Linked DNA regions of Homo sapiens. Changing the gene in region 3 together with the main gene of any one other region gives a genetic interaction. Each region holds a gene or a part of one and is shown on either strand. Other genes may lie near its edges.

Region 1 (3,446 bases), on a different chromosome or scaffold from region 3:
TCTGTAGTTTCAGCCATTAAAAGTTATCATAATACAAAATCCTTTTTTTCCCCCTATGACACCTCCCTTTATGGCAGTTATTACAATACTCTCATGAGCCTCTCTTGGTCTAATTCCAAATCCGCACGCAATTCTACTCCCCTTATTACACTTTGAATCAGATTTTGGAAGCCCAGAGGGCAAAACCAAAAACTACGTTAACTATTCCAGACAGATGGCTCTGGACAGGAATTTCCATTGAGATGTGGCTCATGAAACAACAGTGGATACCTGTTGAGAGTACCATGGAGGAAAGCACAGGGTGAAATCCCAAGGTGTGAACTCTGTGATTACTTCCCAGAGCAGAAGACAAGAAAAGTATTTGCATCCACAGAGGCTCTATCTAGCTTACAATGCTGAGTGCTGTACAGTGCAGCTGTTACTGCATTAATCCTTCTGGTGTTTCTCACAACAAAGAAAAGACCTGGGTCTTATTCTCTTATTGTATAGTAAAACAAAGCAGATTACAGGAAAAGTGCACAGATCTCTCAGCCACTTCCAACTTCTCACACTAGGATATCCTCCTGCCCCTATCTATCTATTTTGACAAAAATAAGATCCCATCTACTCTGAGAAAGCTTTGGAGGCTTATGTAAACTCAGGCTACTTCTAAGGGATGAAATTCAGACTAATGGATTCCTCCCCCTTTTTAAAATTTTTTTTAATACAGTCATATCTGTTTTATCCTTTGGCAGGATTTTTGCTGTTACCCATTACTGTGTGCTTTACGATGTACTAAAAATGATACAGTGCCATGTCAACACAGAATAAAGTTAAACATACTACATGTAGCCAACCACTGCTTTGCAAACCATGGACTGCTCTCAGTCATGCCACCTGTCAAGCATCAAACCTGAGTATGGACGTCAGCTGCAAGCCTTCATTTACCTGCCATGTGATTTGAACTTTTAAACCACGTGGTAGGTAAGGAAAGAAGAGAGGAAGCATAGAGTGACTAAATGCGAACATTAACACTATAGTAATCTTTTTAGCCTTTTGCAGTAAATTGTCCCATGGTTGATATAGACAGTTTTAAAATTACTTCCTCTTAATGTTATATATGGATCTTAAGGGTTAAATATCACCCATGGACTTGTGTCTCCATTACTGGGCTGGTATTATGCCTGGAGCAATATTCATTCAACAGATACTTATTGAGCACGTACTTTGTGGCAGGCATTGTTCTAGGTGTTTATCCTAAGGGAATATATACTCAAGAGCCTGAAAGAGTTCTGACTGTGGCTCTGCCATTAACTAGTTCCTTTTTGGATTTTTATTTTTATTTTTTGAAATTTACTTAATCTTTCTGTGGCTTAGCTTCTTCATCTGTAAAATATGAATAATAATAGTACCTCACAGGTTTGTCATAATAGTTAAATGAGTTGAGACAAGGTGAGGGAAGAGCACACTATTATAACACTGCCTGGGACATAATCGGTGCTCATTAAGTTCAGCTGCTATCTTTAATGGTCATTCTTATGAGAAAAATAAAGGGCCACACCTGTGTAGCACTGGTATGCTTGCAGAGGCCTACAGTCACATTTGTCATTTTTATAATGGGCCACCTCAGTGTCTGAAATCTCTACTATTATTATAATAGTTATTTCTTTGGTTTAAGAAAACAGTTCTGTTATCCACCAAGGTTAACACATGAACAACTCTTGATAGCAAAACATACACTAATTATTAGGATTATCCCCAGAAGAAACAGGTCTCTAAGGGTGTGGGACAGGGTGCGATGTTGTTTTTATGAGAGTAAGACGTTTAAGAGTGGAGAGGAGGAAACACATCACGGTTCATTGTCACAGTAGAGATTGTGGTCATCCTAAGAGTAACACAAGGTCCTGCATTCCTGGCTAGGGATGACTGAAGAGTGGGTGAAGACACCCTGAAAAGAAGACTGTCAGGTTTACCCAAGACTGTCTTTGGTCTTATGCTATATCTTTCTGGTGTTACAATATGAACATGGAGAATAAGATTTACAAGAGAAAATATATATAGCAGTTTCAAGCATATGCAGACTGCCTGGGTTCCAACCTGAATTTACCACTTATTAGTATAACCTTGAGCAATGCCTTAACTTCCCTTTGACATTTGTAAAACAAACATAATGATAGAATTTTATGGGGATGCTGAAAGGAATCTAATTACATTAGATAATGTCTAAAAACAATGTCTGACAGTTAGCAAAAGCTCAGTAAATATTAGCCTCTGTCATTGTTATTGTAGTTTGCTATTATTGGAGCTGCTTTAATTATTTAGTTTCTTCTTTTCCTGAGTCCCACTTAATTTTGCTTGCCTTCTATGAGCCTTTGGCTGAATTTGAAATTCAAAAGTTCCAAATCTTTTTGATCCCTATTTTATTATAGTCTCGGTATTCTACCAATGATCTCAATTGTAAAATGACATTGCCAATATAATCGTTGTTGAACTAATAAATCTGAAAGCAAGGTTTCTATTATTTTGGTTCTATATCTAGTTGAAATTCTATCACTAAAATTTGCATAAATCACTTAATCTCCTTGTGTTTTAGTTGCCTATCTGCAAAATTAAAAATATTGGGGCAAATGTAGTTTCATTTGCAAATTATATATAGCATTTGAGAATTGCCCCTCAAGTTTTCTGAAATTCAGATTCTCTAAGTTGAGGTGATGATTAACCTAGTCAGATTTTATTTGATAAGAGTTAAGAATAGGCATCTCCATTTGTATTAGTCTGTTTTCGCATTGCTAAAAAGAAATACCTGAGACTGGGCAATTTATAAAGAAAAGAGGTTTAACTGGCTCATGGTTCTGCAGGCTATACAGGAAGCATGATGCTGGGGAGGTCTCAGGCAACTTACAATCATGGCAGAAGGCAAACGGGGAGCCAGCACTTCACATGACTGGAGCAGGAGGAAGAGAATTGGGAGGTGCCACATATTTTTAAACAATCAGATCTCACGAGAACTCACTACTGTGACCACAGCATCAAGGGGTGATGGTTTTAACCATGAGAAACCGCCCCCATGATCCAATCACCTCCCACCAGGCCCCATCTCCAACATTGGGGATTACAGTTCACCATGAGATTTGGGCAGGTAACACAAATCTAAACCATATCACCATTCAAGTTTTTAATCTTCATAAATGCCAAGGTTTTAAAAGACTGCCGGGTAGTCCTAAATTGCTCCACTGAGCAGATAAGCAATTACTATGAGTAGCGTCATTTTAAATACATGCAAAACTATTGGTATAGTGACAATAAAGCATTAACTAAGATTACCATAACTGGAGATTTAGGAAAATTTCATCTGAGTTGCATTGTTCTCTTTTCACAATGTATAAATTGCTTAAATTGGGTGATAGTTTAGTTTAACTTTATTACTAAGCATTAACCTCAAGGATTGAAGCTCAGATTGTGGAATT
Region 2 (3,500 bases), on a different chromosome or scaffold from region 3:
TACTAAAAATCCAAAAATTAGCCAAGTATGCTGGCGTGCGCCTGTGGTCCCAGCTACTCGAGAGGCTGAGGCAGAATCGCTTGAGCCCAGGAGGCAGAGGTTGCAGTGAGCTGAGATCACACCACTGCACTCTGGGCAAGAGAGCCAGATCCTGTCTCAAAAAAAGAGAAAAAAAAAAAAAGAGGCTCAAAGTCTTTCAGTGTATCCTTGGAGGAAGCATGAACTCGAGGATCAAGCTACCCTGACTTCAAAACATCAAATCCAGGTTCCTGGTTATTTAATATTAGGGAGAGTCACCTAACAGTTTCTTCATCTGTAAATGCTAGATAGCATTCACCTTGTACAACAGCTAAAGGGGTTTAAATGAACTAATGTTTGTAAAATGTGCCTGACTATAGAAGCTGCTCAATAAAGCAAGTTTCCTTTTCTTCCTTGCTCACCAACCTCTTTCACAAAGATAGAAGGAAAAATTGTTTTTTGACTAAAAGTCAACAAGAAGTTACAGCTGATTAAAGTAAGCAATGGCACCCAAAAAGTAAAATTTCCTTTTTATCCAAAATGGAGGTATTGCTATGTTGCCCAGGCAGATCTTGAACTCCTGGGCTCAAGTGTTCCTCCTGCCTCAGCCTCCAAGTAACTGGGACTACAGGCACTGATATGGTTTGGCTCTGTGTCCCCACCCAAATCTCATCTCAAGTTGTAATCACTGAGGGAAGTGATTGGATTATGGAGAAGTGATTGGATTATGACGACGGTTTCCCCCATTCAAGTGATAGTGAATGAATTCTCACAAGATCTGATGGTCTCATAAGGGGCTCTTCCCCCTTCACTTCCTTCACACTCTCTCGCCTCCTGCCATGTAAGACGTGCCTGCTTCCCTTTCTGCCACAGTAAGTTTCCTGAGGCCTCCTCAGCCATGCAGAACTATGAGTCAATTAAACCTTTTTTTTAATAAATCACCCAGTTTTGGTCAGTTCCTTGTGGCAGTGTGAGAACAGAATAATACATGCACCATGCCTGGCAGAAAGAGTAAAATTTCTGATGTTTCCTTGCTACTCTGAAAACTTTCCTGACACTAAATCCTAACAGTACTAACAATACTTTCCTTCATATGTAATTCTCATTACTCCTCATAATCAGAGTAACTTTTTCCCATGTTTGTCTCTCCCATTGTCTGCCTCCTAATGGACTATGTTTTATTCATCTCTGTAACCTCCAAGTGCCTGGTGTAATGTAGACATTTTCATAAAGCCTCATGAATGAACAATCACAGAAAGAGGCCTTCCATGGTGTACAACTGGACTCAGTACCTGCCCTATCTTGCTGAATGTTTTATAATCTAATAAAACTCAGATAAAGACCCAGATGTCACACCTGAACAGGAAAAGCTGAAAGGAAAAGATAATTAAAATATAAATCAACAGAATCAAGATTTTGAAAAGACCTAGAAAACTTGAAGGATTACTGAAGCCAAGCAAGAGGAAATGATAGGATTAAAAGTAAAATCTTGTGTTTAGATTTTTTTTTTTTTTTTTCAGACGGAGTCTCGCTCTGTCACCAGGCTGGAGTGCAATGGCGCAATCTTGGCTCACTGCAATCTCCGCCTCCTGGGTTCAAGTGATTCCCCTGTCTCAGCCTCCCAAGTAGCTGGGATTACAGGCACCTGCCACCATGCCCAGCTAATTTTTTTGTATTTTTAGTAGAGATGGGCTTCACCATGCTGGCCAGGCTGGTCACGAACTCCTGACCTTGTGATCTGCGTGCCTCTGCCTCCCAAAGTGCTGGGATTACAGGCGTGAGCCACCGTGCCCGGCCTGTGTTTAGATTTTTAAAACACCAGTCACAGAAGTGTAAAGTGAGACCCTCTTCTTTTTTTTTTTTGAAACAAGGTCTCGCTCTGTTGCCCAGGCTAGAGTGCAAATGGCACAATCTTGGCTCACCGCAACCTCCATCTCCGGGCTCAAGCAATCCTCCCACCTCAGCCTCCTGAGTACCTTGAACTACAGGGACACACCACCATGCCTGGCTGAATTTTGTGTTTTTGGTAGAGACAGGGTTTCACCATGTTGCCCATACTGGTCTTGAACTCCTGAACTCAAGAGATCTGCCTGCCTCAGCCTCCCAAAGTACTGGGATTACAGGGGTGAACAACTGCACCTGGCCAAGGCCCCTATTTTAATTAAAAACAAGCAAATCGGCCAGGCGCCGTGGCTCACGACTGTAATCCCAGCACTTTGGGAGGCCAAGGCAGGCGGATCACCTGAGGTCGGGAGTTCGAGACCAGCGTGACCAACATGGAGAAACCCCATCTCTACTAAAAATACAAAATTAGCCCGGCGTGGTGGCACATGCCTGTAATCCCTGCTACTAGGGAGGCTGAGGCAGAAGAATCGCTTGAACCTGGGAGGCGGAGGTTGCAGTGAGCCGAGATCACGCCATTGCACTCCAGTCTGGGCAACAAGAGCGAAACTCCGTCTCAAAAAAAAAAAAAAAGAAAAAAGAAAAAACAAGCAAATCAAAAACCTTAAGACCCAAACTAGAAATAATATAGCTACTGAAACAACAAATGGTTGTCTTTGATTAATAATAAGAAAGGGCCATGAGCCCTTGAAGTTCAAGAGAGAAATTCATTCAGGCTCCAAATCAAGACAGGATTTACCTCATGTGTTATATCTCATACTTGATTTAAGAAATCAAATTTAATAAAAGGCATTTATAAAATGTAAGAATAACCCAAATTGCACAAGGTTCTGAAAATATCATTACAGGAAAGAATGAGGACTTCAGAGGTAGAAGAAAGGTTGTGATAAGATCAATCTGAAGGGCAGGCTTGCCAATAAAAGAGGAATTAATCTGATTCAGGCAGCTCTACAAGGCGGAGGAATAAGAAGAGACAGAAGTAAAAGAAACAGGCTTCAGCTCAATATAAAGAATTAACATGTCTCTAAAAGAATCATGTAGTGAGCTGACCGCTGCACTCTAGCGAGGGAGACAAAGTGAAATTTTTGTCTCAGAAAAAAGAAAAAAAGAAGAATCACTAGGAATAAATAAAAAAAATAACTGGCAACTAGAGGTTTTGTGGTTTTTTTTGTTTTTTTCTGTATGTTTTGCAAAGATGAGGTTTCGCCATGTTGCTCAGGCTGGTCTTAGACCTCCTGAGCTCAGGCAATCTGCCCACCTTGGCCTCCCAAAGTGCTAGGACTATAAGCGTGAACCACGACGCCCGGACAGCCACTGCGCCCAGCCTTATTTTGTTTTTGAGACAGGGTCTCTCACTCTGTCCCCAAAGCTGGGGTGCAATGGTGCAATCTTGCCTCACTGCAGCCTTGAAGTCCTGGGCTCAAACATTCCTCCCACCTCAGTCTCCTGGGGAGCTAGGACTACAGGCATGGACCACCACACCTGGTTACTTTTTTTTTTTTTTTTTTGGTAGAGATAGAGTCTCTATGTTGACCAGGCTGGTCACAGGAGCTATGTTGACTCCTGGCCTCAAGTGACTC
Region 3 (3,500 bases):
TAAAGCTCATTAACACCCATTCCTTTCGCGTATGACGCAACTAAGCCTCATCGGGGCCAACTGGAGAAATAAGGGCTCTGAGGCGTCACAGAAGCATGGCAGCTTCCAGGCACCGCCCGACCGCCCCGTGCCAGGCAGGGAGCACCAGGTGGGGCCACTGTCAGCCCCACGGCAGCTGGGCAGAGGCGGAGCTGGGGCCAGGGCCCAGCCGGTCCCTCCCCTCCTCCTCCAAAGACCGGCCACAGGAGACCAAGCAGTACCCAGGACCGTTCGGCCAGCAGGAGGGGAGGCGCACGACAGAACCAAGGAGCAGAGTGACCCAGCAGGCTCTCCAGTGGCCGCGGCCACAAGCACGCTCGGCCCAGTCTCCCGCCCCATCCGCTGCCCCATCCGCCTGCAGGTGAGCAGAGGCCACCGAGCTGCCAGTATCCAGGAAGCAGGGAAGTGCCTCCTGGAACCCATGGCAGAGAAAAGAAATGCTCTGGTGGACAGCCCAGGGGTGCAGTGGGCCTGCAGCACACGCCTGCAGGGGACGGGGCATGGGTCTCCACTGACCACCCCAAAGCCGAGGGCTCCCAGTACGGCTGGGCCCATGCCCCTCCCGTGAGGTCCTCGCGCCCTGGCGTCCTCGGAGGAGCCACTGGCCATTCCACCCACTTTCCTTCAAGATAGGAAACCAGATCCCAAACGTGAGGTCTGCACGGTCAAAACCGCGTCCTGGTTCGCCTGTTCCTTCATTCCCTCTGGACGGGAGCTGCCCACGAGCACCATAGACAGGCCGCCCAGTGACACTGTACATGGCCTCCCTCTGCACGTGGCCTCCCTCCCCGCTGTGTGTGGTGGTGATGACTTCTCATGAGCAGAAAGGTTTATGTTGCTGTTTCTGAGTGAGTGGATAGACATCCGCTCTCAGTATCCTTGGATTTCACTTCTGATGAGGAAGGCATGGACACACGGGATCACTGCAGACCGCTCGGCTGCGTCAGAACCGCCTGGGGGGACTCCTGGGTGCTGGGTGAGTGGGAACCGGGTCCCTCGTCAGAACCGCGTGGGGGACTCCCGGGTGCTGGGTGAGTGGGAACCGGGTCCCTCGTCGGAACCGTGTGGGGCACTCCCGGGTGCTGGGTGAGTGGGACCGGGTCCCTCGTCGGAACCGCCTGGGGGGACTCCCGGGTGCTGGGTGAGTGGGAACCGGGTCCCTCGTCGGAACCGCGTGGGGGACTCCCGGGTGCTGGGTGAGTGGGAACCGGGTCCCTCGTCGGAACCGCGTGGGGGACTCCCGGGTGCTGGGTGAGTGGGAACCGGGTCCCTCGTCGGAACCGCGTGGGGGACTCCCGGGTGCTGGGTGAGTGGGAACCGGGTCCCTCGTCGGAACCGCGTGGGGGACTCCCGGGTGCTGGGTGAGTGGGAACCGGGTCCCTCGTCGGAACCGCGTGGGGGACTCCCGGGTGCTGGGTGAGTGGGAACCGGGTCCCTCGTCGGAACCGCGTGGGGGACTCCCGGGTGCTGGGTGAGTGGGAACCGGGTCCCTCAGCTGAACGGTGGGGAGGGGGGAGCAGGTGGAGACACCAAGCCCCATCAGGCTCAGGCACCCAAGGTGCCTCCTCACATCACCCATGAGCTGCCCCTGACCACCGTGCCAGGGTTCCCCGGACAGCCCACCCTTGCAGGCTTGGGGACACACCCAGGAGGCTTCACAGTCACACGGCCTGTGCTGAAGCAGGCTTTGCAGCATCCCCCAAGCCCAAGGCTGTTTCCGACTGCACGCACTTCCGGGCCAGAGAGCGCAGACCAACCACAAGGAACAGCTCCACAGGGGCCACGGCCCTGCTCCTGGGCCAGCCGGGTGGACACCTGAGATTTCCAGGGTTCCGTGTGGGGCTCCACCCTCGTGCTGGCGGCCTCCACATGGAGGCCCTCCGTGCCTCTCAGACACTTTCCGACAGAAACAGACAGCAGATGCCACGGACAGGCCTGACCACAGCTGTGCTCTGCCACCAGGTGTGCAGGAAGCCCTCCCTCGAGGGGCACCTGACCTCGCCCAGAGCACACCGGGGGTCAGGTGGCAGCAGTCCGGCCCGACGCCCATGCAGCCCAGGTCCCTCGACTTGATCCGAGGCAGTGCCTCCTCCACACGGTCGCAAAGAGACCGGCCGGCTTCACTCTGCCGCCGACGCCAGGAACCCCTACCAACCTGACATCTCTTAATATGGGCTCAGCTTCCACGACCATGAATTCGACTTTTCAAAGCTTTTTATCTTCAGGATCCCCAGGCAGAACCGCGTCCTGTCTCGGAGCCTCATCCCACGTCCTTAATTGTCTCGAGCCAAAGTGCTCAGGCTTCTGATCCGCGGCAATCACTGAAGCCTGCGTCGGGGTCAAAGTCTTACTAAAAATCAAACACAAGAGACACATTAAAATGCCATCGAAGGTCCGACCAGAACTCACAGACTCCAGGGAACGCCTCAGAAGTGGACCTCACTGCATCTGCCACACCCGGGACTGCTGTCTGGGACCTACCTGGACTCGGGGGCCTGCTGACAGCCAGGGGCCCCGGCTCCTGCCGCACACACGAAGGGCGCTCACCCTGAGGTTGCAGTGCCAGGCCCGAGGCCGCGCCCCTGTGGCCCCGAGGCCTACTCCTGGGAACAGTCCCCCAGGGCTGCGGCCACCCCCACAGGCTCTAGCCGCATCCAGATGTCCCCAGTGTCCAAGAACCAGGGGACGGAGGGCACAGGGTGTGTGCTGTGGGCAGGGAAACTGCGGAAAGGCTCTGCCTCCTGTTCTGGAAGCTTCTATCTCATGTCACTGATTCCCGGGCCTCTGTGACCAGGCAAGGACGTGGAACTTCCCAGGAGCCACCGGGAGAGGTGCTGCTGGCTTTCCAGCATCCAGCCTGGCACTGCCTGCACTGAGCCGCGCCGGCTCCACCTCCGACCCTCAGTGCATCCTGGCGACGCTCCCTCAATTCTCCCAAAAAAACTGCTCAGCTCTTCCTGACCGCTACGGCCAGGGCCTGGCGGGAAGCTGAGGGCACGAACCCCAGTGGCTGAATGCACAGGGGCAGGGGGCCCCTGAGAGGGCCAAGCCTTCCAGTAGAGGCTTGAGAGTGCACACGATCGCCCAGCCCTCGGGAGGGTGTCACTGAGCTGCCCACACCTGGCCCCTGCTCTGGCATGAAGACACAGCACCGAGGCTGACCCCAACGTGCAGCTGACATCAGGCTGACCAGGACAGGAGCCGGCCACCACCAGCCCAGCAGCATGGCAGGCGTGGGCTGAGACGACTGCCTGCCAGGCCAGAAGGGGCCACTCAGCCAAGCCTAAGACCCTGGTAGTGTGCTGTGAGGCCGCCCCTGCGCAGAGGCCTCGCAGACAAATCTCCAACCCTCAACTCCCTCTGCAGGATTCAAGCATACATGCCGACCATCTCCAGCTTCCAGAGACACCATCACAGGGGCTGGGGTGCAGCCCCACGCACGCACCTCCCATCCAGGGTCC
Region 4 (3,500 bases), on a different chromosome or scaffold from region 3:
CAAACTGTGCTCCTTTCAACAAGAGTGAATGCTATTAAGCGGCTGCAAAAATAAAAGCACCACTAGAAATGCTTTCTTTAAAAATTGTTTAATGAAAATCACACTCAACACATTCACATAGCTCTCTCTCTGCATTTCGTGCTTAACAACATAATTTCTTCAGTCGCCCCAGTTGTGATGTTCTTTCCAACCTCGCGTCTTTCCACAGGTCTGGAATGCACTGTCCTTTTTCCGTCTTCACCTGGCCACATCTCTTTACCTGTCTTTTAGGTCCCTGACTGTATTAGTCCATTTTCACACTGCTATCAAGGTACTACCTGAGACTGGGCAATTTATAAACAAAAGGGGTTCAAGTGACTCACAGTTCTGCATGGTTGGGGAGACCTCAGGAAACTTACAATCATGACGAACCTCGGGGAACTTACAATTGTGACGAAAGGCAAAGGGGAAGCAGGCACCTTCTTCACAAGGTGGCAGGAGAGAGTGCAGGGAAAACTGCCACTTTTAAAACCATCAGATCTTGTGAGAACTCCCTCACTATCACAAGAACAGCATGGGGAAACAGCCCCCATGATCCAATCACCTCCCACCAGGTCCCTCCCCTGACACGTGGGGATTACAATTCAAGATGAGATTTGGGTGGGGACACAGAGCCAAATCATTATCACTGACACCACCCCTGAAGCTGGGAAAAGGGCACATGGGGATTCACTGTACCATTCTCCATACTTTTGAGTATTTGTGAAAATTCCATAGTAAGGTCTTTTAAAAACCACTCTTTATACAAGAAATGAAAGACAAACATGGTGGGTTATCCCAACCACACCAGTCCCACCTGTCCATGAACCTGAACTGCAGCACATCCACTAACGAATATGTAGCATTGCCCACTATCTCACAGATGTGTCCTCAATAACCCCTGGCCTGTTTTATGTGTCATCATAAAATTTCATATATTGAAATATGTGAAACTCATTTCACTTAATCTGAAGCTGAAAGAAGTATTAAAGAGCTGGAATTATTTCCCAAACTCCCACTGGTGTTAACAACATGACATTATTTTCAGTGTTCTCTGGGACCAATACATTCGGGAAATCTGCAAGAGTTGCTGTTTTATTTTTTATTCATTTATTTTTTTTTGAGACAGAGTCTCGCTCTGTCACTCAGGCTAGAGTGCAGTGGCGAGATCCCAACTCACTGCAACCTCCACCTCCTGGGTTCAAGCAATTCTCCTGCCTCAGCCTCCTGTAGCTGGGACTACAGGCACATGCCACCATGCCCAGCTAATTTTTTTTATTTTTAGTAGAGATGGGGTTAACCCCCTGAGGAGTATTATAGAAATGTCATGAAGACAGGTTAGCTGACAGTCTGTCCCGTGCACCGCAGGGACAGTCAACAGCAGGAACACAATGTCAGCACCCCAGCTCATAGAGGAACTGAATTCTATCCACTCTCCTCTGAGGACCCAGCCCTGGGAAACTGACTCAAACTAAGCTGGAATGCCAACTTATTAAGTTACAATGAGAACTATAACTTGGAGGAAAACCAAAACACTCAGTGTCTGCAGTTCAAGTTTCCACCAGAAAGCTGCTTGGTAAACACTAAAGTACAGCATTAAGATAGTTAGATGCCTCAAGTCATAAAAACCTGAAACAATGGTACTATAAATACCAATCATCCTAGGTTTTCTGGGATAATCTTCAGTACTCTTATCATGAGACCAAATGCTGTGAGTTACTATTTCAAATACATGATCATCCCTGCCAAGATAGCGGCATCTCCTCCTTTTCATGTACAGGGTTCTATATAGATCACACCTTTCCAATAACATACTTACCTCAAAAATCACTCGAATCTGTGCAGTTTCCTTGTCTTATACTGTGGTTTTGAGAAAACATGCTTGTCTGGTTGGATTCAAGAAGCACGCGTGTCCAGCAGACTTAGAAAGCAGGTTCCTCTTGTCATACAGCACGTTAACATAGCTGACGAGGCCTGGGTGTCTTCATCAGTACTGTGATGACTCTTTCACCTTTGACTTCAGATGCTGGCGCTTTTTACTTTTTGTGCCAAACTCTACACATGAAACACTTTTGGAATAACTACAGACATGACTTTCTTTATCTGGGGAAAAGGAGGGCATTAAACCAGATTAGGGGCTGGGAGGGGAGGTTGTCAGGGGATGAGCTGCTCCTGAGGAAGAGGCAGAGATCAAGCTTCACTCAGCAGCTGGATTCTCACCTAGTTTATAGACTGAAATCCTGCAAGGTGGTTACAACAGTGAACAATATGTTCATACATAAAGACTCTACCCTCAGGGGATCTACTGTTTTTTGGTTTTTAAGAGACTGAATAGTAATACATACATACATACATATGTGTGTGTGTATATATATATATGTATGTATGAGTATATATATCCACAGGCAGAGTCACTCAAAAATTCTATTTTCTGTGTACTCAAGTATTAAAATGAAAGGGCAAGACTGCTGCCACTCAGCTGCCACATGCTTCTTCTACGAACCCTGGTCCTTCTCTGCCCATTACTCAGAAGACAGGCTGAATGACACAAACAAAAATCAGATGTAAGTTGAAAAATCAAATTGGATTTTATTGAAATGTATATAAATAACCCTCATTTTTCTTTATTTCATCAGTATTGGGAAATTAAGTGAAAAGTAATTAAAAAGTAGTAGTCCTGAGAGAGAGAAATGAAGGCTGAAAGGGAATCAAGAAAACCATATTCCATCCCAGATCTGCCACTACCCAGTCTGGGAAAGGCATTTATTGTCCTGGCCTCAGCTGTAGAATGAGGTGGCTGAAATCTATGTTGTCTGGAGTCAATTACAGCTCTACAATCTTGCTGTTCTAATTCTACCATTAGGAGCCAATGCTAACGTTACATACTGACCATATAAGCAGGTACTCAAAATGAAAAGGGAATAAACACTGAGTTCATGGGGACACTTTTAAGGAAGACAAGAGAAATACATAAGTTTGCTGCTTAAAAAATGCATTAATGTTACTGCTTTATTCACACTAATTAGAATACATACACAAAAAATGTGTATCATATATCACTTTCAAAAATTTCCATGTTCCATGAGAACTATGTAAACAATGCAAAATGTTTCCACTACGTAACAAAAGAAAATCAGCATTCCCACATAGTATTAGGAAAATATTTGGATAATCTGAATTTATAGTAAAACAAAGTGATCTGAATTTGTAGTAAAACAAAGTGAAATATTACAAAGCAGTCTTGTCATGAAGTAGCCTTATATAACTCAGAAGCAACACATTTCATACTTTCAAACACTTTGGTATAAGTGAAATTAATAGAAAACAAAAAGAAGAAGAAAAAAACCTCTACTTTGGTTTTCACATTATTGGAACTTCAGCAACAAGGCAAGTGCACAGCTACCTTGGATGACAAAATGGAAAACCTCTCATCTGCTTGCTTCTCCTCCTGGAAATGGACGTGCTAGGAGAGCGCTTCCCAG
Region 5 (3,500 bases), on a different chromosome or scaffold from region 3:
TGGGAGGCTGAAGTGGGCAGATTACTTGAGCCCAGGAGTTTGAGACCAGCCTGGGCAACATACTGGGACCTCATTTCTACAAAAAAAAATCAAAAAATAAGACAAGAGGATCACTTGAACCTGGGAGGTTAAGGCTGCAATGAGCCATGATCACGCCTCTGCACTCCAGTGTGGGCAACGGGAGTGAGACTCTGTCTCAAAAAGAAAAAGAAAGAAAATTATCTTTTTAAGTGATAATCATGATGTTTTTACAGTAAGGATAACTTTTTTTCCCCTTCCTGAGTAAACAGTTTGTAAGGAAATTGAAACTTTTTGTTGTTCTGTGTGGACAAATTTTCATACGCAGTTACATTGTGAAAATTTTTGCAGGAAAACTAATTTTCGGCCAGGCATGGTGGCTCACGCCTGTAATCCCAGCACTTAGGGAGGCTGAGGTGGGTAAATCACTTGAGCTCCAGAGTTCGAGACCAGCCTGGGTAACATGTGCCTGTAGTTCCAGCTACTTGGGAGGCTGAGGTGGGAGGATCATTTGAGCCCAGGAGGCAGAGGTTGCAGTGAACTGAGATCGTGGCACTGCACTCCAGCCTGGGTGATAGAAATAGACTATGTCTCAAAGAAAAAAAAGGAAAAAAACATAATTTCCATATGCAACTACACTGAAAATTTTAAATGTGAAAAATACGTTTTCACGTTTTAAATCCTGTTTTTAGCTGTGCGTGGTGACACATGCCCATAATCTCAGCTACTCAGGAGGCTGAGGCTTGAACCTGGGAGAGGGAGGTTGCAGTGAGCCAAGATCATGCCACTTGCATTCTAGCCTGGATGACAGTGAGACTGTGTCTCAAAAAAAAAATCCTGTGATTTAATATTCATTTTTGTCTATTCTTACTTTCTTACTCAAGTTTTTGAGGCCTCAAATAATTGTTATAGTTGTTCAAAACTGTATTAATCTAAAGGACATTTTATCAAGAAAATTTTAATTCCTTTCTCTGTTCAGGAAACGATTATATATGGAAGTATTTGAATATACTCGCCCTATGATGCATCCTGAACCTGGAAAATTCTACCAGATTAATCCAGAAGAGTATGAACATCCAAATCCCTGGAAAGAGAGTTTCCAGCAGTTGGTATGAAATATAAATAGAATATATTGGTTTATATTATACATTTGTAAATAACTTTCTTTTAAGAAATAAGTTTAGGCTGGGCGTGGTGGCTCACACCTGTAATCCCAGCACCTTGGGAGGCCGAGGTAGGAGGATTACCTGAGGTCAGGAGTTCGAGACCAGCTTGGCCAACATGGCGAAACTCCATCTCTTCTAAAAATACAAAAATTAGCCGGACATGGTGGCGCACACCTGTAGTCCCAGCTACTTCGGAGGCTAAGGCAGGAGAATCACTTGAACCCAGGAGGCAGAGTTGCAGAGAGCTGACATTGCACTGCTGCACTCCAGCCTGGGCGACAGAGTGAGACTCTTGTCTCAGGGAAAAAAAAAAAGTTGAGTAGGTTTTAATGAACATTTATCAACCAACAGAATATTCAGCAATTCTTTTCACTACTGACATATCCCCCCATTAATAAGTTAGTACAGTAAGCATTAGTAGCCTAAGAGCAGTTGTGATTTCAATGGGTCTGTTTGAACTTGTATTTAAATTATTAGTGTTCAGCATTTGTTTTAAAGTTCCACATTTAGCTTAATTGTTATACGGCCCTTCGTGAGTGAGTCTCAGCTGGAGATGATTTTGCTTTCTGTGGGACATTTGGCGATGTCGGGAGACATTTTTTGATTGTCACAATGGGAGGAGAGTGTGCTGCTGCTATTTGGCTGGGTGAGGCCAGGGATACCTCTAAACATCCTACAGTGCACAGGACAGCCCCCATAACAAAGAATTAACTGACTTAAAATATCAGTAATGCTGAGATTGAGAAACCCTGTTCTTTGTTTCTGGATATTACCGGATCATAACTTGTTTTAGATTTTACATTGTACTCTGACAGAAAATTATTTGGAATAGTTGAGAATTATTTTTGATTTGTAATAAAAGTTGTTCATGCAATTGTACATTAATTTAAATATAAGGTTTATGTTAGTAGTCAATGGTTTTGTTTTGTTTTTGACATTTTAGTATAAAGGTGCACATGTAAAGCCAGGATTTGCTGAACATTTCTACAGTAACCCTGCAAGATATAAAGGAAGAGAAAATATGTTGGTATGTTTGATTTTTATTTTTATGACTTAAAATGGTAATCTTTCAGTTCTGTACTGACACATTTATTTTTTTCTAGTATTATGATACTATTGAAGATGCCCTTGGTGGGGTACAAGAGGCTCATTTTGATGGACTTATCTTTGTTCATTCTGGAATATATACTGATGAATGGATATATATTGAATCTCCAATCACCATGATTGGTGCAGGTATTTTGAAATGCATTGTCATTAAAATTTTAATATTTTACTCATTTATGTGATAGGATTTTAAAAATGCTAGTGACTTAAAATCCAGTTTTATAATATCCTGCTGGTAAAGTAGGAATGAAGATATCACACATATTTTAAGTGAAGGAAGTGAAAACATAAGAGTTCAGAAATTATAGCTGTATATAAATTCTTTCTCCCCGCCCCCCCCAACCTTTTTTGTTTTTTTGATGCAGAGTCTAGCTATGTCACTCAGGCTAGAGTGCAGTGGCACAATTTCAGTTCACTGTAACCTCTGCCTCCTGGGTTCAAGCAATTCTCATGCCTCAACCTCTCAAGTAGCTGGGATTATAGGCATGCACCACCATGCGTGGCTAATTTTTGTATTTTTAGCAGAGATAGGGTTTCGCCATGTTGGCCAGGCTGGTCTCAAACTCCTGGCCTCAAGTGATTTGCCCATCTCGGCCTTCCAAAGTGCGGGGATTACAGACATGAGCCACTGTGCCTGGCTGTATATGTTTCCTAATGTTAGTACTTTCTCCATTTGCCTTGAGTTATTCATTAAACGAAGAAAAATAGCTTTTTCATCTTTTATTTGAAAATAAAGATGCAGCCAGGTGTGGTGGCTCACACCTGTAAACCCAGTAGTTTGGGAGGCTGAGGTGGGTGGATCGCTTCAGGTCAGGAGTTAAAGACTGGCCTGGCCAACATGGTGAAACCCCATCTTTACTAAAAATACAAAAAAAATTAGCCAGGTGTGGTGGTGTGCACCTGTAATCCCAGCGACTCTGGAGGCTGAGGCAGGAGAATTGCAAAGAAAGATGCTAATATTTCTATTGCTATGTTTTTAAAGGAACTGAAATAGAATTTTTAAATACTTTTGTACTATTTCAAAGCTATTTATGGTCAGGTTTCTAAGAATAAATGTAATATCTGTCAAACACTGAGTCATTTGAAGATTTGTGGTTTTTTTATTTTGAGGATACAGTACATAGAACATTTTAAGATAGCTAGTAATTATTATTTGCTAGTGAAATTTGCATTTACAGCCTCTTTTGCTTTCTTCCTCTATCTCCTCAT
Region 6 (3,500 bases), on a different chromosome or scaffold from region 3:
CGTCAGAGAGCTCTGGGTCTCCATGAGGGTGGGCAGTCATCAGTCTTTCCCTGGTCCTTATCGTAGTTTGAATTTGGTCCAAGGAATAAGAGAGACACTTGGCACAGCTTCCCTGCCATACCCGCCAGCCAGGCTACTTCCCATAGAGCACGTTAGGCTTGGCCAAGTGAGATCTTCTTGTCAGTGCTTAATCCAGCCTCCCGTTGTTTGTCAGCCCTAGCTGGAGGCCTCACAGGAGTTCCTGTGTCCTTCCAGTTTGATACCAAGTTTAGACCAAGAAAAGTTCCTTTCTGTGGCACACCTGTAGTCTCTTACCTGTCTTTGGTGGTTGTACACGAACAGGCAGATATCCACAACTGCAGAACAAGTGTCATCGTCTCTCTTAAGAAGTTTCAGGGCAGCCTAAAGGCTCACCTTCACCCTACCAGGCCCCCTTTCATAGCCAGGATCTTAGGGATGGAGAAGAAAGATAAGTTCACCTCGTTCACTGAAGTCGCCCCTTGTTTTCAGGTTAGGAAACCCAGGTTCATGTCCAAGTCCCTGGGCAAGTAGCCAGCGTAACTGATTGACCTAAAACAAAGGATGGAGCCCTTGGAGCTCTGCATAGTGAAATGTATGATTTCTTAGTGGAAAACGAGAAAGCCACTGAGGAAGCCCAGAAGGGAACTTAGCATATACAGCCAGCTTTGGGGAAGGGGGAAGCAGTGCCAAGCAAGACAGGTGCTTTTCAGAGACACATGAATCTCTGTCACTCACGGATGTACTCTTTGCCCCAGGTGAAAGTGACGTCCTGCATTTCACCTCCACCACCACGTCGAAGAATCGCATCATCATAACCTGGCACCGGTACCGGCCCCCTGACTACAGGGATCTCATCAGCTTCACCGTTTACTACAAGGAAGCGTGAGTTTCTGCTTTGGGTGATGCCATTCTGTTGACAGGGCTACGAATGGGAGAGGCCAGTCTTTCGATCCTTGAATGGGCTGGCTGAATACAGGGGGTCAGCAGAGTCCCCAGGGAGAGCCACGCCAAACATCCCTACTTCATCCTCATGCACCCTCTCGGGCTGTCCCTGTGATGTCAGTCACAGCCAGTGACAGCCATGATTGGGAAAGTGTTAGCTCGAGGCCTGTCATTCTTTAGTGAGTGATTAGAGGTGTTTGAATAAAATAAACCCAAAATGGGGAAAGCTTGCTTTTTCCAGAATTAGGTCAGTCCAGACTCATGAACGATGATGGGGGACTTCACTGAAATATCGTTTCAGCCTCCTTACCTACTAGGCCTACTCCAGGAACACCCTGCAGGCACGTGGCTCTTTTGTATCATCTTATTCCTGTCTCTCTCTCTGTGTGCCTCTCCCAAGCTGTGGCCCTCTGCTCTAGGTCATGAGCCTTCCAAACAAGCGAAGAAAAGTGGAGAGAGAACAACCTTCATGTCTTGAGCCTTTTGTGACTTCTCCTAGACTCTGTTGGGAGCTTTTCCTGTGTGATCACATGACATTCCCCCATCTAAGCAGCCGAGGCTTATTCCTCCCGACTGCAGCCCTCTTTGATCTCCCTCTTCCTTCCTTTGCCTTCTATATCCAGGTGGCTACCCCGGTCTACTTAGCCATCCCCCTTACCCAGGTCCCATGTTAATCCCATAGTTCTCTCTCCCAGATGTGTGGCTTCCAAAGAGCAGCAACCAGAGGCACCTTATGACAGCATCTTGTACTCTTTCCTCCTGCCAGAGCTGGGGTCCTATGAATGAGAAATTGGGTACTTAGGATTACTAGGCTTTCAGAGTTTGTACACAGGGGAGCCCCTCATGATCTCCCATCCCATGACAGCAGACGGTGTTTTGTTCATGTTTGTTTCAGAAGCCAGCGGCCAGCAGCTGTCCAGCCCTTTTAGCTGATAAATATAAAATACCTACCCAACCATGCATCTGTGCGAAGTACTATATTCTCTGATAGTCACACCAGTGCTTTGGCAATGTCAGCTGGTAATTTCACTGAGGACTTGATGCTGGTTTCTAAGGCAATCTGGAAACTAAATATTTGAATATTATAAGATGCTTAAGCATCAGAATTGTTTATGAGCAATCTGAATTTTAGAAGCTACTTCTGTTTGTCTGTAGGAAAGTCATTTTTCTCCAACAGTTACCTTCTTTCAATATCTGATATTTGCATTAACTGACTATGCTTGTTTTTTTCTTGATGAAAAAATGCTGCAATCAGAAGAGAGAAAAATAGTTTTTGCATATGTTCTTAAGGAATAGTAACTATTGAATCCCAGTAACTGTTGAAGTGGCTCTTCCTGAGGCAGACCATTCAATTCTGTAATGCCCGACTGGGGAAGCCCAGAGTCCAGTCACTTCATTTCTTCTTCTATAAAAGTCTAATTGATTATTTGTTTATTTAGACCTCCCATTATAGAAAGTGTGACATGCTGGGCCTCTGGGGAAGATTTTTGAGGGTTTTGATGTCAGAGCCCCGAACTTTCTCTGAACTTAATTGTCTTTCAGACCCTTTAAGAATGTCACAGAGTATGATGGGCAGGATGCCTGCGGCTCCAACAGCTGGAACATGGTGGACGTGGACCTCCCGCCCAACAAGGACGTGGAGCCCGGCATCTTACTACATGGGCTGAAGCCCTGGACTCAGTACGCCGTTTACGTCAAGGCTGTGACCCTCACCATGGTGGAGAACGACCATATCCGTGGGGCCAAGAGTGAGATCTTGTACATTCGCACCAATGCTTCAGGTATCCATGCCTAGACAAGCCCCCAGCATCCACACTTCTTCGCAAGCTCACTGGCCTTGCTTGTACCAGGTGTCATTGTAGGGTTAGCAGTGAGCTATGCCTGTTGTCTTTCTTGTCAATAGGTAATACTGTGTCATATTCATTTCCCCACTGCTAACACATTAGGCTCTTCTGTGCCATTTTCTGGCCTCGGTACTATCTTCCATCATCTCCTGCTTTGTGCCTGTGAGCCCAGGTCCTCCAGGGTGCTGGGCTGGTTTCATTGGAAGGCCCAGCCTGGAAACAGCCGTCTTCAGCTGCCCTTGTTTCTTGTTTGTTTTGATGTTCAATCCTCCAGGAACTGAAACCATGCTGATCTGTGTTCCACTTAATTCATGTAGCTCACTGGTTTTCCATCTTCATTCTGGAGCTTATAGAGTTCCAAAGAGGTCAACAAAAGTTGAAAGCCTGCAGATGTAGTATGTTGTGGATATTCAGAGTATTCACTGATGATGAGGTTCCTCCTTCCTTTATCTTTAGGTTCTAAACCATCTCATTTCTCAACTCCAGATCTGGAAACAGTAAAAGCAAACGTTAATAGTTTCCAGTATATAAAAACTAGTTTAGAAGTAGGAAAATCCACTTCAGTTTTAAAGACACTGATTGTTTTAGTGTATTGGAGCTTCTATCACAAAAAAACAGTGTAGCCTGGGTGGCTTATAAGCAATAGAAATGTATTTCTCACAGTTCCAGAAGCCACAAAGTGCAAGATCAAGG
Region 7 (3,500 bases), on a different chromosome or scaffold from region 3:
TACTCAGGAGGCTGAGGCTGGTGAATCACTTGAACCCGGGAGGCGGAGGTTGCAGTGAGCCGAGATTGCACCATTGCACTCCAGCCTGGCAACAAAAGCGAAACTCTGTCTCAAAAAAAAATAAAATAAAATAAGTCCGGACACAGTGGCTCATGTCTTTAATCCCAGCACTTTGGGAGGCCGAGGCGGGTGGATCACGAGGTCAGGAGATCAAGACCATCCTGGCTAACACGGTGGAACCCCGTCTCTACTAAAAATACAAAAATTAGGTGGGTGTGGTGGCATGTGCCTGTAGTCCCAGCTACTCAGGAGGCTGAGACAGGAGAATCGCTAGAACCCAGGAGGCAGAAGTTGCAGTGAGCCAAGATTGCACCACTGCACTCCAGCCTGGGCAACAGAGAGAGACTCAGTCTCAAAAAAAAAAAAAAACCATAAAAAATAAAAATTCAAATAAAAATAAGTCTTTGGATAGTTTTGGAGTATTTACATATTAGTTACATATTTAAAAGTCTACAATTTGCTTAATGAATTATTTTCTCATGGGTACAGATAATCAAACATTAACTTTCACATGTATGATAGCCTTTTTCATTTGTTGCATACTCTAAAATTAAAACTATACATACACCATACACAATTTTGTAATACTAAACTTTTATAAATTTCTTTCCATTTTCTTTTTTTTTTTTTTTTTTTTTTTTTTTGAGACAGAGTTTCACTCTTGTCGTCCAGACTGGAGTGCAATGGCATGATCTTGGCTCACTGCAACCTCTGCCTCCCGGATTCCAGTGATCCTCCTGCCTCAGCCTCCCGTGTAGCTGAGATTACAGGCACTCGCTATCATGCCCAGCTAATTTTTGTGTTTTTAGTAGAGACAGGGTTTCACCACGTTGGTCAGGCTGGTCTCGAACTCCTGAGTTCAGGTGATCCACCTGCCTCAGCCTCCCAAAATGCTGGGATTACAGGCGTGAGCCACTGTGCCCGGCCCCATTTTTCTTATAGCTTATAGTCAGTCACATTAGCAAAAACCTATTATTATTTTATAATAGTACTGAAGACCTCTGAAGATCCTGTGTATCATCACAACCTATTAATTCATTATCTCCTCTATGTTAATGTTCAAAAAAAATTCTTTATATGGCTGCTAACTAGGTTATGTCTTATGTGGTAATTGTTTTTGTTTTCTTTCTTCCTTTTAAAGAAATTCTAACAGCAGAACTTTTTATAATTCAATAAACTATATGACACCCCTTTATGTCACTTTAAATAAAAATAGGGATTCTTTTTGTTAGAAAACCTAAAACACTGCAATCAGCACACTGGAGCACAAACTATACCAATTATAATACTATCAAAGCTAAATATTAACTTAGGTTTACAGTGGTGTCTTAAAAGTGGACTCAAATTTAATTAATGCACTACATTCCCAACTAGGAAAAAAATAACCTCAACCTTTTCTTAAAACCGCAAAATTTTTCCTCTGAATTGTTGTTTTCAAAGAATCTAGGAACTAAACAACTATAAGCAGACTACATTATCTTAAAACCTACATTTGACTAAACACCAAAAACAGAAGAAAAAAAGCTATTATTTCATGTTATCAACTTCAGTGGTAACTTAAAAATATTTAGAGTTTCAATGAATTGACCTTGTCAAATAGTAAAAGGCCTAGAGCCTTACATGTCATTATAAAATTTCCTTAAAAGGCTGGACATGGTGGCTCATGACTGCAACCCCAGCTCTTTGGGAGGCCAAGGCAGGTAGATTGCTTGAGCCCAAGAGTTCAAGACCAGCATGGGCAACACGGTGAAAACCTATCCCTACAAAAAAAATTAGCCAGGGATGGTAGTGCATGCCTGTAGCTACTCAGAAGGCTGACATGGGAGGATCACCTGAGCCCCAGAAGTTGAGGCTGCAGTAAGCCTTGATTAACCACTGCACTCCATCCTGGAGGAAGGAGTAAGACTCTCTCTCTCTCAAAAACAAACAACAACAACAACAACAACAATCACCACCAAACACTACCTGTCTCAAAACAAAAAAACCCAGCAAACTCAAATGTTTACTGCAAGTAATTAAAACATCTCAATAACTTATTTAAATCCACTGGATTTATGCTTCATTTATAGAGCCATTCATTACCTTAATTTTAAAAAAATCACAGCCAGTTCTTACGCTATTTGAATGATAAATACCAAAATCACTTTAAAAAGAACGCCAATTAAAAAAAAAAAAAAAGGACGCCAATTCTTTCAACCAAGTATTTATGAAGACAAATACAAGTATAAAACCTGTTTCATAAATAATTAGGGGTAATATATTAAATATAGATGTATTTTCAGCCATGCATACTAGTTTTAATTAATTTCTAGAAACCTTCACTCTTACATGAAAGAATCATATTGCTAAACCAGCTTCACAAAATGCACTTTGAAATTATTCTATTTCAATATTACATTAACACCAGATCTGGAAATCAAGCCAAATACTAAATAGACCCCTTAACACTCACTCTGTTGCTTCCTACAGTTGCAAACACTAATGGATCTCCTTCTTTACTGTGCCAGTTAAACTGAACTCCAAACAATGGTTGGTTATGATCTTCCTATAAAATAATCATGAAATAAGAAAAGATTAATGTATCTTACAAACCAGAAAATGACAGTAAACTAACCTATCCCCTTCTTTTTTCCAAAATGCAATACATTATTTTGTGTATCATACATAAGCTAACTTTTGACACTAAAATTAAAAGATGTCTACTAGTCTAGTTTTCACATTTTAAAATATTGTGTATGATAAAGTTTTATCACAACCAAAGGCTGAAATCACAAGTTAGGTAATAACCGCTTACCTACGAAAACACTTATAATATTTGCCTTTTTCTTAATAAGCCAATCATATTCTGAATCACAATAAACTGGATAATTTTGGTGGATACAAAAGGACACAATTTATTTTTCTGAAACAGGAAATTAACAGATGGCCTTAATAGCTTCTCTGGCATTCACTAAATTTTATAAGGCTAAATTTTTCCCTTGTAAAGTGAAGCATAGCAGACTCCATTCAAATCACTGTTTTCTGTTAGTCAGAATGAGAATATCTGAACACTGGGGACTAGGGGAAGAAATAAACTGTAACTGCACAGTTACCAGGAGGCTATAGGAGATGTACAAAGAACAATTATGCACTTTTGTTCACAAAGTTATTTTTCAGCTTTAGGATTTTACTGGCCAACTTCTGGCATTTAACACTGACTTTCAGATGCAGTTTAAGGCACTGTTTTCACTTTTAAAGTACGTCTTTCGTTTTCTCATCATTTGAAAAGCCACAGCTTTAGGATTTTGAAATACTGCCTTAAGTATAAAAGGCAGCTAAAAACATCTTCCAGGTACAGTACCTAAAAGTAGTACGTTAATGTAAATAAATATGCACATGAAACTATAATTGACTTTTAAAAAATATGCTGAGATTAATTTCTCTCCTTTTACAGGAGCAAA

Evidence for each region.
Region 1: changes in CTBP1 (region 3) and FUT8 together harm fitness more than expected from each alone (negative genetic interaction), as found in Homo sapiens cells (one large-scale study listed by BioGRID).
Region 2: changes in CTBP1 (region 3) and RAB1A together harm fitness more than expected from each alone (negative genetic interaction), as found in Homo sapiens cells (one large-scale study listed by BioGRID).
Region 4: changes in CTBP1 (region 3) and SEC23IP together harm fitness more than expected from each alone (negative genetic interaction), as found in Homo sapiens cells (one large-scale study listed by BioGRID).
Region 5: of CTBP1 (region 3) and FBXO11, changing one suppresses a phenotype caused by changing the other (phenotypic suppression), as found in Homo sapiens cells (one study listed by BioGRID).
Region 6: changes in CTBP1 (region 3) and IGF1R together harm fitness less than expected from each alone (positive genetic interaction), as found in Homo sapiens cells (one large-scale study listed by BioGRID).
Region 7: changes in CTBP1 (region 3) and EED together harm fitness less than expected from each alone (positive genetic interaction), as found in Homo sapiens cells (one large-scale study listed by BioGRID).

What each region holds. Positions count from the first base shown.
Region 1 is NC_000014.9:65,737,730-65,741,175, forward strand, and holds part of FUT8 (alpha-(1,6)-fucosyltransferase), read left to right. Parts: intron 1-3,446. UniProt on the Homo sapiens protein: Catalyzes the addition of fucose in alpha 1-6 linkage to the first GlcNAc residue, next to the peptide chains in N-glycans.
Region 2 is NC_000002.12:65,092,107-65,095,606, forward strand, and holds part of RAB1A (ras-related protein Rab-1A), read right to left. Parts: intron 1-3,500. UniProt on the Homo sapiens protein: The small GTPases Rab are key regulators of intracellular membrane trafficking, from the formation of transport vesicles to their fusion with membranes.
Region 3 is NC_000004.12:1,239,131-1,242,630, forward strand, and holds part of CTBP1 (C-terminal-binding protein 1), read right to left. Parts: intron 2,390-3,500; 5' UTR 2,202-2,389; coding exon 2,195-2,201; intron 1-2,194. UniProt on the Homo sapiens protein: Corepressor targeting diverse transcription regulators such as GLIS2 or BCL6. Has dehydrogenase activity. Involved in controlling the equilibrium between tubular and stacked structures in the Golgi complex.
Region 4 is NC_000010.11:119,941,230-119,944,729, reverse strand, and holds the end of SEC23IP (SEC23-interacting protein), read right to left. Parts: 3' UTR 73-3,500; downstream 1-72. UniProt on the Homo sapiens protein: Plays a role in the organization of endoplasmic reticulum exit sites. Specifically binds to phosphatidylinositol 3-phosphate (PI(3)P), phosphatidylinositol 4-phosphate (PI(4)P) and phosphatidylinositol 5-phosphate (PI(5)P).
Region 5 is NC_000002.12:47,833,499-47,836,998, reverse strand, and holds part of FBXO11 (F-box only protein 11), read left to right. Parts: intron 1-997; coding exon 998-1,127; intron 1,128-2,127; coding exon 2,128-2,211; intron 2,212-2,287; coding exon 2,288-2,420; intron 2,421-3,500. UniProt on the Homo sapiens protein: Substrate recognition component of a SCF (SKP1-CUL1-F-box protein) E3 ubiquitin-protein ligase complex which mediates the ubiquitination and subsequent proteasomal degradation of target proteins, such as DTL/CDT2, BCL6, SNAI1 and PRDM1/BLIMP1.
Region 6 is NC_000015.10:98,910,539-98,914,038, forward strand, and holds part of IGF1R (insulin-like growth factor 1 receptor isoform 1 precursor), read left to right. Parts: intron 1-776; coding exon 777-903; intron 904-2,505; coding exon 2,506-2,744; intron 2,745-3,500. UniProt on the Homo sapiens protein: Receptor tyrosine kinase which mediates actions of insulin-like growth factor 1 (IGF1). Binds IGF1 with high affinity and IGF2 and insulin (INS) with a lower affinity. The activated IGF1R is involved in cell growth and survival control.
Region 7 is NC_000011.10:86,251,253-86,254,752, reverse strand, and holds part of EED (polycomb protein EED), read right to left. Parts: intron 2,606-3,500; coding exon 2,513-2,605; intron 1-2,512. UniProt on the Homo sapiens protein: Polycomb group (PcG) protein. Component of the PRC2/EED-EZH2 complex, which methylates 'Lys-9' and 'Lys-27' of histone H3, leading to transcriptional repression of the affected target gene.